Homo sapiens: one gene and its partners. The protein of the gene in region 2 purifies or fractionates together with the protein of the main gene of each other region. This does not show direct contact. Each region holds a gene or a part of one and is shown on either strand. Other genes may lie near its edges.

The links.
Region 1: the proteins of SOST (region 2) and AHCYL2 purify together in Homo sapiens (affinity purification with mass spectrometry; 2 studies listed by BioGRID and IntAct, with this or other methods). This does not show direct contact.
Region 3: the proteins of SOST (region 2) and KPNA4 purify together in Homo sapiens (affinity purification with mass spectrometry; 2 studies listed by BioGRID and IntAct, with this or other methods). This does not show direct contact.

Annotation. Positions count from the first base shown.
Region 1 is NC_000007.14:129,231,428-129,235,163, reverse strand, and holds part of AHCYL2 (adenosylhomocysteinase 3), read right to left. Parts: intron 1-3,736. UniProt on the Homo sapiens protein: May regulate the electrogenic sodium/bicarbonate cotransporter SLC4A4 activity and Mg(2+)-sensitivity. On the contrary of its homolog AHCYL1, does not regulate ITPR1 sensitivity to inositol 1,4,5-trisphosphate.
Region 2 is NC_000017.11:43,753,148-43,755,937, forward strand, and holds the end of SOST (sclerostin precursor), read right to left. Parts: intron 2,617-2,790; coding exon 2,195-2,616; 3' UTR 591-2,194; downstream 1-590. UniProt on the Homo sapiens protein: Negative regulator of bone growth that acts through inhibition of Wnt signaling and bone formation.
Region 3 is NC_000003.12:160,524,072-160,527,571, reverse strand, and holds part of KPNA4 (importin subunit alpha-3), read left to right. Parts: intron 1-1,464; coding exon 1,465-1,634; intron 1,635-1,727; coding exon 1,728-1,772; intron 1,773-3,500. UniProt on the Homo sapiens protein: Functions in nuclear protein import as an adapter protein for nuclear receptor KPNB1. Binds specifically and directly to substrates containing either a simple or bipartite NLS motif.

The DNA of each region.
Region 1 (3,736 bases), on a different chromosome or scaffold from region 2:
GTCAATGTCAAATGCTGCTAAGAGGTCCAAGAAGATGAGGACTGAAAAAAAAGACCCCCATGTTTCCCAATCTAATGGACATCAACAACTTTAGCAAGAGGGTTTTGTTTTGGTTAAACAGAATATTATAGCAGGAGTGAGTTAAGGAATTCATGAGAGGAAAAAAGCACATATAGCATGTACTGAAAACTCCTTTAAGAAGCATGCCTGTGAAAGAGAATAGAAAAACATGACAGCAACAGAAAATATGCAGGTCAAAGGACAGGGTTTTCAAAATGGGAGACAATAGGGCAAGTGTGAATTCTGAAGGAAAAGACCTAGTAGAAAGATGAAATAAACCAAAGGAAGAAATTCTTTAAGACAGGAGAGGCCAAGCACAGTGGCTCACACCTGTAATCCCAGCACTTTGGGAGGGTGAGGCAGAAGGACTGCTTGAAGCGAGGAATTCGAGGCCAGCCTGGGCAACAAAGTGAGACACCATCTCTACAAAAAGTTTTTAAAATGTGGCTGGGTGCAGCGGCTCATGCTTATAATCCCAGTACTTTCAAAGGCCAAGGAGGAAGGATCACTTGAAGCTGGGAGTTCAAGACCAGCCTAGGCAACATAGCAAGAGACCCCATCTTGGCCAGGTGTGGGCTCGCGCCTGTAATCCCAGCACTTTGAGAGGCCAAAGTGGGCAGATCACAAGGTCAGGAGTTCCAGACCAGCCTGGCCAACCTGGTGAAACCCCGTCTCTACTAAAAATACAAAAATTAGCCAGGCACAGTGGCGGATGCCTGTAATCCCAGCTACTTGAGAGGCCGAGGCAGCAGAATTGCTTGAACTCACGAGGCGGAGGTTGCAGTGAGCCGAGATAGTGCCACTGCAGTCCAGCCTGGGTGACAGAGTAAGGCTCCATCTAGGGGGAAAAAAGAGACCCCATCTCTACAAGAAAGTCATAAAAAAATTAGCCAGGTATGGTGGCATGCACCTATAGTCCCAGCTACTCGGGAGGCTGAGAAGGGAGGTTCTATTGAGCTCAGGAGGTTGAGGGTGCAATGAGCTATGACCACACCACTGCACTCCTGCCTGGGCTACAGAGTGAGACTTCATCTCTTGAAGAAAAATGAATGAAAACAAAGAGAAAGAGAGAGAAGAAAGATAGAAAAAGAAAGGAGGAGGAAGGGGGGAGGGGGAGAAAAGAATGATTACAGCACCTGTGAAGGGATTGGTCTTGACAGAATGAAGGAGAAAAAGATGAGTCCCAGATGCACATAGGTTTGTAGACTTGGGAGGTAAAAGAATGAAGGAATTCCCATTCAGCAGCTTCCATTTTTATAATGAGGCATAAAGCCTATGACTGGTTAAAAAAGAAGAAAATATGAGAGATTAGAAATAAGAGCTGGGCACGGTGGCTCATGCCCATAATCTCAGCACTTTGGGAGGCTGAGGAGGGCGGATCACGAGGTCAGGAGATTGAGCCATTCTGGCGAACACGGTGAAACGCCATCTCTACTAACAATACAAAAATTAGCTGGGCGTGGTAGTGCGTGCCTGTAGTCCCAGCTACTCATGAGGCTGAGGCAGGAGAATCGCTTGAACCCGGGAGGCGGAGGTTGCAGTGAGCGGAGATCGCGCCACTGCACTCCAGCCTGGGGACAGAGCAAGATTCCATCTCAAAAAAAGAGAAAAAGAAATAGAGACAGTAGGCCAGGCACAGTGGCTAATGCCTATAATCCCAGCACTTTGGAAGGGTGAGACAGGAGGATCACTTGAGCCCGAGAATTGGAGACCTGCAACATGGCAAGATACCGTCTCTACAAAAAAATAAAAAAATAGCCAGGCGTGGTAGCACACTTGTAGTTCTGGCTACTCAGGAGGCTGAGACAGGAGGATTGCTTGAACCAGGGAGTTTGAGGCTACAGTGAGCTGTGACTGTACCACTGCACTCCAGCCTGGGTGAGAGAGGGAGACCTTGTCTCAGTAAAAAAGAAAAGAGAAAGAGACAATATGAAGAAATAATTCGCAGTGAGCTGGAAAGTGAACTAGAGAAATGTATAACATTGCTAGGTAATGCTGATTATGCATATGAAATAGATGATTATAAATTTTTAATGACACTGATCTGTCTAATTTGCTGATTTTCTCTAGCAACTCTCAGCTCCATGAGTGCCAGCAACTAAGAAGGTAGATGGTTAGGTTCAACCCGTACATCACTCCAAGTTCTACAAGCAGCAGAAGTCAACACTGGCTGAATTAAACAGAAAAAGAATTTACAGAAAGGATATGAGGTCACTTTTTCAGTGAAGAACTTAAGTGCTACACAGCTAAAACAACACTCAAAATTACAGAACTGGGTTGGCAAAGATGTGATTGCTAATGCCAAGCAGGAGATGCTGCAGCTTGGTTTGCACCATCACAGTTCTGGATACTAAGTGCTAACACTTGCCACTGTTGCCCTTATAACTTGATCTTGCTGCTAGAGACTGATACTACATGTGAATCTGCTGATCAAGGAGGGGGATATTGTAAAGAACATGGTGGAACAGTTTGAGGGACTGAATCAGCTGAAGGATGAAGAGAGTGGTAAAGGAATTAGTATTGGGAAGATAATGGATGGCGGATGGCGGGTAGTGACTGAAACAAACAGGGATGTGAGGCATGGTGTTTAGGCCTCCCCTTGAAAGAGGCTAGATTGTGAGATCCAAAGTGGTCTTAGCAGCAGCTTAAGCAGACTTCAGTGGGAGTCTGGTCAGAGCAGCACGGGTGTTGGCACAGAGGCAAAGCTGCCCAATATTGCTATGGCCAGCATTTCATTGACAAAGCCTTGGACAAGTTAATTACTCTCTTTGAGCCTATATTTTCTTATCCATAATATAAAGATAGTACTACACATCTGATAAAGTTGTCATGAGGATTAAATACTAAGACAGAGATTCCTGACACGGAGTAAGTATTCAGTAAATGGTAGCAATTATAAGTGACACTGAAGCCAAGAGAAGAGTTTCCAAGAAAAGGTAGTCAATAGATGAAGTTTCACCTTGGAGCACTGTAGAATGTAAGTGTGTGCAGAGAAGATGAAGCTAGTTTTAGCCTCAGGTTTGCAACATTCAGAAAGGCTAAAGTCCTATACTCAGAGAAACTCAATCAGCAGTTCAAATACCCTTCCTTTATATAGGTTCTAAGCTAAGAACTAGGTGCCCCAAACCAATAGATTTCTACTGATAGACCCTTGAAAAAAAAAAAGAAAATAAAATCACCAGCTTTTAGTGCAAGCGTCCAAGAGGGAAATAGCTAACTGAACTGTTGCACGATACAGCTGGGGAAAAGGGAGACTGAAACCCATACAAATAATCATCTAATTTAATCAAAGTAATTTTAGAGTTGGGAACTGTTACAGAAGAAACGTCAATCCACTGCCGCTTTCTGCTCTGCTCTCACCAAATCGCAGGCCATAGGTCATTCAGACTATAAAAAGCTCCTACAAATTCCATAGAAATCTGATCAAGTTTACTAAACCTCTTGTTGGGTGAATGGAATTTCAGCTCCTCTAATTGTGTCTACCACCTAAACATGACAGCAGGGCAGTGGATCAGGGCAACTGCCAAGATTGTTCTCTTCCCATCTGCCTCAGTTGTACCTCTCTAAATTATTTAAACAAAAACCACCATGAAACAAACTGCATATTCTTTATAAACTTGACAAAGGGTCTGAATAAAGATTACAACAAACTTTTTTTCTCTCGTGGGGGAGGGAA
Region 2 (2,790 bases):
GGTGTAGACAAAAGGGGCTGGAACCTCAGAGGAGAGAGGGATCATGGGAGATTGGAACATCTCTGGAAGGTTAGGGGAAGAGATGACAAGTAATGTGAATCCTAAAGAAAGAGGATTAGTTATTGGGGGTGCTAAGTGTGGATGGCAAACTAAGGAAGCAGGGATCTGCATGACCATTTGGAGTCAGTAGGAAGCTTGGTGGAGTGGGAGGTGGGAGTCAAGCAGAGAAGGCCTCCCATGTCAGATAGGGAAACTGCACTTGATCCTGGGCAAGGGGGAGCTATGGAAGGCTTTTGAGCAGGGGAGTGATACAATGAGAACAGCATTTTGGAAGCCAGCATGGAGGGGAGGCTGCTAAAAGGATACAAGGCTGAGGTTATTACCATGCCCTGGGTGAAGAAATGCGGTCTGGGTTTGGAAAGGAAGGGATAAACATGACTTTTCAAAGGAAGACATAATTGCCACAAGGGCCACCAGAGAGCAGTCAAAGGTGTGTCCAAGGTTGGAGCTCTAGTGACCAAGAGAAGGGTGTCAACTTTGACAGAAATGACGTCATGTGTGGTTGACAAAATGAGACCACATCCTTTCGGTCATGATTCATTGTCTTTATTAACAATGTCTCTGGACTCTGGAAGAACAGACTGTTAATTCATAAAGCAATATTAACATTGTCATTCTCTACAAGAAAAACTTTTGCATAAATAACTTAAGTGAGAAAATAAATATGTAACTTAACTCTTTAAAAACCACTACTTTCATTCTTGTGGACAAGTCCCACGTGGAAGAATTGCCAAAAAAACGACCAGTCCTGCAGGCTTTCATATGTCATGTGCTTCTGTTTAAAACTTTTTTTTTTTAACAATTAAAAACTACACAGAAAGTAAGAGGTTGTCTGGAAATGATTTTCAAAAAGATTTTTGGGTGGCAGTATTATGCTCTGCAGTTTCTCAGCATATGTACAGCACTTGTAGTTTTTCCCCCAATAATATTCTTTTAGTGTAAGATATGCCATCACATGTAAGAGCAGTAAGAAGCTGTTTTCTAGGCAGAAATGTGTCCGTGAGTGGTGGGCAGAAGGCGGTGTCTCAAAAGGGATGTGCTGGTCTGTGAGTTTGTGATGGCTGCTCCCTCGGGCCTGCAAGGCCAGTGTCCTTGAACCTTTCACTTCTCTTCGGAAGGTGACTTTAAAACATGGCTATGGGTCGGGGGAGGGATGCTGCTCTTTGGGAAGTTGGGGCGGATGTGATTTCTATCCCTCCCACCACCCTCGGACCCTCTCCTTTTCTACCCCAATGGATGATGTTATTTCTTTGAGATGGAGGGGTGGAGGTAGCCAAACATCCGGGGAAGCCAGGCTGGGAAGCAGCATAGCTTCTTCCAGGAGTTTGTCAGCCGTAAATATGTCAGCCATAAATAGACTCTTTACTTTTTTTTTTCTGTTTGTTTTTCATCTTTGGCTGTCAGAAGAGAGCATCACAACTCTGAATTCTGGAAGTGACCTTGGCACTGAATCAATGCAACTGCATTCATTCTCTCTCTTTCTCTCTCTCTCTCTCACCTCTGCCCATTCAAAAGGCACTGGAGTCCTTGGAATCATATGCCAATAGTCTCCTCGAGATCCTATTCCCACCTCCACCCTCATTTTACAAAGTGGAAATTGAGGTCCCGAAGGAGAATTGTGTAGTTCAAGGTTACACAGCAAGTTAGTGGCAGAGCCAGGACTAGAAACCACATCTACAGTTGCCCCCAGTCTTGTGCTCTGGGCACGCCTCAGGCTTTCTGATGGGCAGCGAGGTGCAAGGGGGAATCTTATCCAACTTTCTTAACCAGTCCCTGGACTTTCCCACTCCCACACCGCTCCCTTAAAACCCCAGGGCGGTGAAAATGCTTCCATTTCTGCCTCCTCTGAAGTGGGACCAGCAAAGGTAGGCGGCCCCAGAGGCGGGGCTGCGTGGCTCAGTGTCTGTGACTCTCAATTCCCTCCCCTGCCCCGTGGGACCCCTCAGCTGGCGGGCTGAGGGGGGCCTTGCCGGCGCCCGGGATTCCTCAGGGCCTGGAAGGTCTCAGCCCCCTGCCCTGGGTTGCAGGCATTTACAATGAAATATAAACAATCAAACCACGCGCAGAGGACAGAAATGTGGGGCGCGGGTTCAGGGCCGGGGCGCCCGCCGGTGGGGAGGGGCGCGGGCGGGCTCTAGTAGGCGTTCTCCAGCTCGGCCTGGTTGGCTTTGGCGCTCCGGGCGCGGGGCCGCGGCTTCCGGCCCTTCTGCGGCCGAGCGGCCTCGGTCCCGAAGTCCTTGAGCTCCGACTGGTTGTGGAAGCGGGTGAGGCGCTTGCACTTGCACGAGGCCACCAGGCGCACCTTGCGCGCGCGCGGCGCCTCACCACCGGGACACAGCAGCTGCACGCGCTGCGCGCGGTAGCGGTCGGGGATGCAGCGGAAGTCGGGCCCACTAGGTCGCCACCACTTGCCGCGGCCGATGGCGTTGGGCAGCAGGCGCGCCGGGCCGCACTGGCCGGAGCACACCAGCTCGGTGACCGGCTTGGCGCTGCGGCACGGCCCATCGGTCACGTAGCGGGTGAAGTGCAGCTCGCGGCAGCTGTACTCGGACACGTCTGTGGAGAGAGGCGCGCGTGAGGGTGGCCGCCCGCCTGGCCACCCCTGCCCTGGACCGGCCCGTCTCTCTCCACCCCAGCCCTGCTTTTGCCAAGCCTGTCTCCAGAGGCTTTTGCCCCTGAACATCTATTGCAGGAAGGTCCCAGATGCTCTAGAGCTGGTGGAAAGCTCTC
Region 3 (3,500 bases), on a different chromosome or scaffold from region 2:
TAAACCAATAATTTTTCTCCGTAATGACAGTTCTGAGAAGAGTCTAAAATGAAATTTTTTCTCTCTTGCAGACTTCAGTACATTAGAATTTAGTAATGTATAAAATATAGTAATATTATTTCCTGTCACCATGAATCAACAAGACATAACCATAGCCTTTTGACAGTCTGGTTAAATATTTAACACTGTGATTACTATAACTTTCAGGTTCTCTCTGATAAATAATTGTAAGGAAAATAAAGACAATTCTGATATTTCAAGGATTTGTTTTTTTAACTAGAGCCTAAACTCAAAAATTCAAAGAACTATTCTCCAGTAAAGGATGGAAAAAATCTGAATTGTATTGTGCCCCAGTATAGCTCAGAGACCTAACAGTTATGAGTGGGGGCTGAGGTACTGTTTGTAGGGGTATTGCTAATCTAGTGAAGGAGAATGATTCTAAAGATTATTTTTGCCAAATTCTTTATTCTTGCATGGAAATAATCATTGTTGCTTTGATATGCCATCTCTTTATTGCCCTTATACAGGGCCAACATGAAAGTAAAGAGTGGTTATGAGTTTTTAAGGGAGAATTTCTCTGTAAACCATTCTTGACATTGGGTTTATACTATTAGGAATGCTATTGTTTCTATATCCAGACTCCCTCACTCTTTTGCTTTTATACCAAATGTTAGATTTAGAGCTATTATACAGCATCTTGATCTTTCATTTTTTTATTCCAGTGACATTCCGTAATTAACATGAATATAAAGATGCAAAAAGAACAAACATTTTATCTCCAGATATTATAGTGCAAGGGAAGGTGCTTTCACTTATGGTAACATTTCAACATGGCTTCATATTAGAAACTGCAGTGATGCTTCAGATACAGAAATTAAACTTGGCAGTTCTCTGCAGCAGTGGTTCTCAAACCTTAGCATGCAATCAGGACTACATGGGGTGCTTGTTAAAACACAGAATTCCAAACCCATAGAGTTTCTGCTTCAGGAGGCCTGAGCTAGAGCCCAATAATCACATTGAGAACCACTATTCTAGCACTGGTTCACCCTTTTCTTCTGACATAGTTTTCTAAGTGTATAGAGTAATTTATAGTTCATAACCTTGATGCTCTGATACGGGATCATAAGTACAAATTCAACAAATATTTTCTTGATACATCTTTTTTATCACATGAAAGTTTGTTAAACCAAGAGTATTGTTGAGAGAGAAGTTAAAAGCAGCAGTTTAATTAAGTGAGCAGCAAAATGCTGAAGATGGGAATAATGTGCAAAAGAATACCTTATCACTTTATGTTGCCTCTCTTGGCTCAGAGACCTTGAATGTGAGCCTGCTTGTTATTGTCTAAAACTGAACAGTGTATCTGGATAAAATACATGAAGCAGCATATTCCCAGTGCTTTGTGTTTTCTGAAAATGCTTACTGTCAGTATGTTTTATTGAGTAAATTAATCCTTTTTTTCTACAGGTGATGGGCCCCAGTGTAGAGATTATGTCATAAGTCTTGGAGTTGTGAAACCTTTACTTTCCTTCATAAGTCCATCTATTCCTATAACATTCTTAAGAAATGTTACTTGGGTTATGGTCAACTTATGTCGCCACAAAGACCCACCACCACCAATGGAAACCATTCAGGAGGTAAACACTTTTAAAAAAAAATTAAAAGAGATACCATTATATATATATTTTTTATTTGTGTATGTTTTTAAATCTACATATTTCTCTCCTCAGATTCTTCCAGCCCTTTGTGTTTTAATTCATCACACAGATGTAAATGTGAGTAAATGTGTCCTATTATATATTTATGTATGTATGTATGTATTTCTAGGGCTTCCCCTGTGACATAGGGGAGAAATATTATACTAACACATTGTGTCAGCATACTATCAGATTTTCCCATTTCAAGAGTTATTTTATATTAGATTAGTTATTTTATAATATTTTAATATTTACTCTATGTTTATCTATATCACAAAATATAATACCAGTTAAGAAATCAAGCATAACTGTTATTTTGGTGTGGACAATATTGTATGTATGTGTATATATTAGTGTTATAAAAACTGACATTAAAAGTTTTTAAAGTTGCCAGATAGTGGTGATTTCTCTTACTAAGATCATGTCTTTAATTGTTCTTGTGCTTTTTACAGAAGGTCATTTTGACAGTTTGGCCAATGAAAGCACACACAAATAGTGCTATTTTTGTTTTTTGAAAGATGAAAAAGGAAAATGTTTGTGCATGGATTTGTATTCATATACACATACCAAACCATGGACATCAATTGCCCTTTAATTCCATTTTTATTCTATTTCTCAGTTACAGTGACTGGCAGTGGCTTCATTTATCAAGATAACTTGATTATCCAAACAACAGGAAAAAAAAATCAGTGCAGGCAAGATTTTAAACATAGCAAATATATTTTGCTTATTTTTACTAACACAGATGGCAGAGGAAAAAGCAACTCAGGGAGTATGAATGAGGTGGAAAACTGCCCTGAGTGCTTGTAAAAGCCAGACCAGCCTTTGGTGTGTTAGAGAAACCAGGAATATAATGGGTAAGGGAAAACACATGAATGAAATGTTTAGCAACAATCAGGAACTCATGTGGTTCTTTAAAAACAGTTTGGCATGGTGACCAGTGTTGGACAAGCTGCTTCATTTCTTTACAATTTAAAGGCCTATGCCTTTTGGCCAGAATTTAATTTGTATGGAACAAATTAAAATTAGAATTTTACTGTATCAAACAGTGACATAATATATAAAATTCATTAGATGAACATGATCTCTGTGGTAGAGTTTTTGTTTGTTTTTAGCCCCAGATAGTTTAGGATCTTAAAAAATGTGTAAGTAATTTTTGGTTTTGGCTCCTTAATAGCCAAGTTCTTTGATTAAATTGTGAATTTCAATATTTTGCTTTGAAAGATTTACAAGAGGCCAGGTGTGGTGGCTTATGCCTATTGTCCCAGCACTTTAGGAGGCTGAGGCAGGAGGATCACTTGAGTGCAGGAGTTCGAGACCAGCCTGGGCAACATGACGAAACCCTGTCTCTATGAAAAATACCAAAAAATTAGCCAGGCATAGTGATGTGCACCTGTAGTCTCAGCTACTCAGTGGCTGAGGCAGGAGGATCTCCTGAGCTGGGGAGGTCAAGGCTGCAGTGAACTGTGATCATGTCACTGCACTGCAGCCTGAGTGACAGAGCAAGACCCTGTCTCAAAAATAAATAAATAAATAAATAAATAAAACGATTGGCAAGAAAGATTTAACTTCAAAGTTTATACCTCTACTAGAAAACAAGACATCTTGGTTGACTTTATTTAGAGATAGATTGTGTTCTTTCCACCTATTTACTCCAATCTAGATGAGACTGTGACTCCATTTTCTTGCCTTTGATGTATCTTGAAGAATTTCTCAAGCCTGTTTACATTGTTCTTTTTAGTAACATGATTAACAAATAATATTGCTTACTAAATAATGTGTTAGAAGTTTGATTTGAATTATGAT